Regions from separate parts of the Homo sapiens genome. Here region 1 is linked to region 2. The links come from fine-mapping of genetic effects on gene expression. A gene starts in region 2. The other region holds a variant in brackets. All regions are shown on one strand. Distances are from middle to middle.

Region 1 (2,921 bases), 32 kb before region 2:
GAATTTGTCTGACTCTGAAAATGTTTAAACAAAAGAAAACCCTACAAACAACTGAGATACTCTTCTAAATAGTCCCAGGGAGCCAAGGGGAAATTTCAAATGCCTTTAGAATTCGTGATGGGAACCAAAATGAATGCAGCCCTGAGCTTGAAATACGAGTTAGCTCAACAACTTAGCTGGGCTCTTCAAACATGAGCTAGGAAGATAAAAGAGAAAACTTCATTGGAATTTTCATGATTTAACAAATTTCATTTTTAAAATTTGTTCCTGAAGTTCTTTTCTCTTCCCAGCTGGAATGATGAGGGGTCTGGAAGTTAATGTGTTAAAGATTCAGCTAGATTACCTGCCAAATCAAAGCCATCATAGGTTTTCAATGATCCAATTAGGACACTGTGATCCTAAGACTTTAGGCAGAATGCAAAGAAGGCGCAGATACTATTTCCCTCGTTTTTGTTGGTTTCCCTCCAATAATGTTATAACCAGCTACAGTCTGCATTGAGGCACTCCCCAATCCTGCTTCACAAATGCATGAACCCAAATTACTGCTCCATTCCCTTCACAGCCAATCCAATTTAGTAAGTTGAGTTGAACCAAGAGAAGAGCAGCTAATTAAAATCACACTACGGTACAAACAATATGGACGTCTTTCTACCTCCAAGGTCCCATTTGTATCTTAAAATGGGAATGTGTTCATTCTAGTTACCTACTCCTTGAACAGGAAAGATTGTAGAGAATTAAAACAAACTTAGACCTCGGAACTGTGCCAATGTGGAATGTAAGAGGTGCCGGAGTTTAGGTAATACAGAAGTATCCAGAGTTTGGCTTTCAAAAAATAGTCCCAGGTATACCACCAAGGGGTCTGCTGGAGGATACTGTGGTGGGGATCTGTCACCAGGAGCTGTCAAACTGCTGTTGAAAGATCTTTTCCTGTCACAGGCAGAATTATCTCTGCCCTGAGGTGCTACTGCACTCTGCATTTGTTTGCGTATTTGCTTCTGTCTTCTTCAGACTTCTTATAAGTCACTAATTGTTTTGATAAATATGTAATATCTTTACAACCTGGAAGGATGTTAAGAAGGGACTGTGGAATATATTCTCAGCCAGTCCAGTGGGTTGGGGTTAAGGGCAGCAGGGCAGTGCTGCTGAGATGGCCAAAGCAGATTCTTCACCTCTCCTGCATCTTCATCAGTGAATTTGTGCTGTTTACAAATCCTGGGGCGAGGGCCAGTTTTCCAAGAGCTGGGCTTTCTGCCAGGGTCTGTCTGGACCCACATGTCATCTGGAAGTTTTCATCCTTTTTTCTTTGTCTGCATCTTTCCTTTCTTTTTTTCTCTGTACACCTGGATAAAAATTCCTTGCTTCATCTCCTCCCAATACTTCCTCAGCATTTTGAAAATAGCACAGCTTCAATAAATGTCAATGACTGAAAAATGGAGATGAAACAGATG[A/G]AAACAAAAACTGCTGTATATAAAACAGTTGATGAGTACAGCAATAGAAAAAAATGCAAATTACTAACATTCTGATTAAGCAGATGAGTCTGGAAGGATCCTGAAAGGATTCTTGAGGCTGTTCATTTAGGTAAGAACTTAAGCCACCTTTTTTTTTTTTAAGAAAAATAACTTACTATTGAATATTACCTGCACAACTCCAATGTTTTTCTGATCACATTTTAGTTTAAATTTAGTTTAATATAGTTAAATTATAAATAAATCGTAAAATATTACACACTTATTAAAGAGAATTAGCAACTTACAAAAAAATAGTTTGAAGAAAAATAAATGTAAAATCAACGCTCATCTCACTGCCTAAGCACCACTATTGTCAATTCTTAGGAATTATTTCATGCCAAGACTTTCTTTCTTTTTTTTTTTTTTTTTTTTTGAGACAGAGTCTTGCTGTGTTGCCCAGGGTGGAGTAAAATGGCACGATCTCAGCTCACTGCAACTTCCGCCTCCCAGGTTCAAGCATTTCTCCTGCCTCAGCCTCCCGAGTAGCTGGGATTACAGGCGCGAGCCACCAAACCCAGCTAATTTTTGTATTTTTAGTAGAGACGGAGTTTCACCATGTTAGCCAGGATGATGTTGATCTCTTGACCTCGTGATCCGCCCGCCTCAGCCTCCCAAAGTGCTGGGATTACAGGCGTGAGCCACAGTGCCTGGCCCAAGACTTTCTTTCTATGCATAGAATCTTCATAATTATAGTCCTATAGCATATACAATTTTATTTTTCTTTTACATAATAAAGATATATTTTATGTAATAAACTTTATTCTATAAGATCATGCCAAGTGGTTACAAAGTATCGTAATTTAAATAATCCCTCATGCTTAAACCCTGGGGGGTGTTTTGAGATTTTGCTACAACATATAATTTGTCATCAATGTGTTTTAGCAAAACTAGCGCACATGGATGATTATTAGGATAAATTCTTAGAAGAAAAGTTGTTTGTTCAGAGTGTTAGCCATCTTAAGCCTTTTGCTTCATTCTGTTAAGCCACTCTTCAGAAAGCTTTAGTAATTTGCAGTGTGAAACAGAATATATAGATCCAACATATTGGAGTGTTCCTTTATCCATATTCCTAACAATTTTACAAAAATCTTTTCCAATTTAAAAGATTAAAATGTTAGTTATGTTTGCACTTCTTACTAGTGAGTATATTTTAATATATTTGTTATTCCTTTGTATTTGTGAATTAATAGAGCTTTAAATTTAAATCTTAATTTTTAAATTCCATATTGAATTGCAGAAACTGTAGGTTGAGGCTATATTAAAGGCTATAACCTTTTGATGGTCATGTGATATAAAAATTTTTTATATTTCAGGTTAAAATGTTCATTTCTTTTTCAGTGATTATTTTATATTATTTTATGTTGTTATATCTATCTGCCTTTTCTTTTGTGCTTTCTCTTTGTTATTATGCAT
Region 2 (2,921 bases):
CTATGGGCCATAATTTACCAATCCTGAGTTAGAATAATAGAATATATCCTAAACCATCTTGATTCCTTTTTGATGGTCTCCAATAACCTTCTAATAACTCCAGCTATCTGTTCTGTCTACATTATTCTAAGTGTTTCTATGTCTCTTGACATACATTTGACCACTCTCCTTTTTAAAACTCTCTCTCTTGTTATGTGGATATGATAAAATGTAAATGTAGCTTCACAAGAAATATAATAATGGAGGGTAATTGGTGATTTTCCAAGGCAGGAGGGTGGTTGTCCTGACCTTGTTTGTCTGTATCTGAGCTATGTGACCCTTAGAACAGGAGATGGTGGCCTCTCTGGATGGAATAGAGATTTTACAGGTGAGCTGGACCAGAAGAGCTGGTGATACTCAGGTGGGGGTTGAATGGGGCAGTTGTGAGGCACTTGTGGACATTAGAGAGGTAGAGATAGAGAGAGGAGAGAAAGGGGGAAGAAGGGCATGTAAGCAAAGGGAGGGGGAGACAGGAAAAAGAGGAGAGGAGAAGAGAGGCAGAAAGATGAGCCAAGGTTGCTCACGGCAAGAGAGGAAATTAAATCCAGATGATGCTAAGTGAGCTTGAGGCTCATTAAGCCATACCAGGCAAGAAGACAGTTAGAATTGTCCTTGAGCTGAAGAGGAGAACTACGTTAGGAGCTGCAATCCCAAGAATGGAGAGAGGGTCCTGGAAGGCTTGAGGATGGGGCAAAGATGCTGGGGCTTGGGAACAGTCCCTCAACGTTTTGGGGTTTTTAGATTTTTTTGTTTGTTTTTTAAATGGAGGTCAAAGTGTAACAGCCTTCCAAAATAAACTAAGTTGTCCTTATGCAGCCCTTTCATTTGGTTTGAAAAGGTGAGGTCAGAGATGTTCATGCTCAGTGTGAATTTGGAGACGCAAAGGAGAGAGGCAGAGCACAGACTCATCTGGAGGAGAAAGGCAGCTTCCTGCCTCACTGCCCAGGACTGAGGTAGGGAGCAGGCCAAATGCGAACTTGGAAGCCAGTGGCAGAGGATGGGCCGAAAGGAGGGATAAGGGAGTACCAGGAGCTAAGCAGTGCTGTGGAGAAGGTCTTTTAGGGGACTCTTCCAACAGCAGCAGGGATGCAGGGTAGATAGACAGGGAGAGACCTGGGGCCAGAAAACCCAGAGAAGACAAGACAGTTAGGAGACTCCAGCCACAGTCCAGGCAACATGCACGAGGGCCTAACTTACAGTGGGGATGAAAGGGAATGATAGCTGGGAAACCCTCTTCAGAGGGAATCACCATGGCTCATTGGCTGACAGGTTGTAATTTCTCACTCACCTGTGCTGGGTTAGTGCTGAATCTCCACTGGGTTTCTTCAGAGAGTGTGTGTGTGTGTGTGTGTGTGTGTGTGTGTGTGTGTGGTGGGTTAGTGCTGAATCTCCACTGGGTTTCTTCAGAGTGTGTGTGTGTGTGTGTGTGTGTGTGTGTGTGTGTGTGTGCGTGCGCGCTCTTGGCTGATTATCTCCCTGGGCCAAACTTCCAATTATAAATCTCCCGGAGTGAGTGGCTTCAGCAAAGCAGTCCTTCCTTGTGACATGCTCAGTCTGGAGGTTCTGACTACTCCCCCATGAGCTCTGTAGGGGAGCTGTTTGTTGTTTGGGATTTTCAGAAACAGGATTTTCCTGCTTGGGCAGCAACAGCATGACCCTGAGTGTTCAGATCCCGAGGGAGCCAGGAGCCGGGAGGAAGGCAGCAGCAGGCTCAGCTTCCTGTAGGCCAAGCATTGCTTTGGGCAGTGAGGGGGGCATCCAAGTGAACTTTAGTTGTGCACAGCAAGCCCCACACCCCCGCCCTTCAATTAATCAGTGAGCCAGCAAGCTGGGCCTTTACTGAACTCCTATAGTGAGGCCAGTTTCCTTATCAAAAGTGAATGGCCTCATGGAGAGACCTCAGTCCCACACCCTGAATAAAGCTCAATAGTGCTGCCCACCATCAGTGATTCCAGGAAAAAAAATTTAATGAATCTGATTAGAATACTTAGAGTACACTGATGACCTGGAATTAGCTTGAATAGGAAGAGAGGATACGTGAGGAATTAAATCCTTGCACACAGGAGTTAAAACCACCTCCTCCCTTTTGCATCCCTGGTTGGTCCACCTGGATCCTCTGTCTTCACAACTTAAAAGGGTTAGCAGCCACATGGAAGGAAACAGGGAATGTGCCAGGTGAATTTCAGAAGTTTTGCCATTGCTTCTCTCCAAGTTGTACACAATTTCAATAATACTCTAAGAATTAAGAGATGTATTTTAATGGGTTTTTTTCCTGATCCTATAAACAAATCTTAGGTCATCAGATCTGGAAGAGACATCAGACCTTATGCTCTGCTTCCCTTGTAAAACTGAACGCCTTTAACAGCACAGCTCAGAGTGCAGTCAGTCAATATTGACATTTCACAAGAGAGGTCAATAATTCTCAGCAAGTGAGTAGCTGGTTCTAGCTCAGTCACCCACTTAGGTGTCAGGACTATCTTCTGAGAAGCAGTCTTTCATAACATCCCACTGAGGCTTGGATGCCTTCAGAAAAGATTTCTGACAATTCCTGTGCTTTCTTGCCATAGCATCTTGTTAGACTCAGTCAAGGTGATTGTGTATTGTTCCTACCCTGCCCTCTGCTGAGCTTTTGCCTAAAAGAACTCTTATAAGAAGTCTTAGGCTGGTGCAGTGGCTCACGCCTGTAATCCCAGCAATTTGGGAGGCCAAGGTGGGCAGATCACAAAGTCAGGAGTTCAAGACTAGCCTGGCCAATATAGTGAAACCCCATCTCTACTAAAAAATACAAAAATTAGCCAGGCGTGGTGGTGCACGCCTGTAGTCCCACTACTCGGGAAACTGAAACAGGAGAATCACTGGAACCCAGGAGGCAGAGGTTGCAG

What was found. PIP is the estimated chance that this variant, and not a neighbour inherited with it, causes the effect.
Region 1: its variant is fine-mapped to the expression of TACR1-AS1 in lung (TOPMed, PIP above 0.99).

The regions. Positions count from the first base shown.
Region 1 is chr2:75,185,332-75,188,252 of GRCh38, reverse strand. All of the region lies in intron 1 of TACR1 (tachykinin receptor 1), which reads left to right. The region is part of intron 2 of TACR1-AS1 (TACR1 antisense RNA 1); the gene reads right to left. Among named protein-coding and RNA genes, the nearest start is that of TACR1, 13 kb to the left of the region's middle. The variant A/G (reference allele first, on the strand shown) is at 1,449.
Region 2 is chr2:75,152,978-75,155,898 of GRCh38, reverse strand. It overlaps TACR1-AS1 (TACR1 antisense RNA 1), which reads right to left and starts at 1,581. Exons shown (of 4, transcript NR_168010.1): 1 at 1,328-1,581. The region is part of intron 1 of TACR1 (tachykinin receptor 1); the gene reads left to right.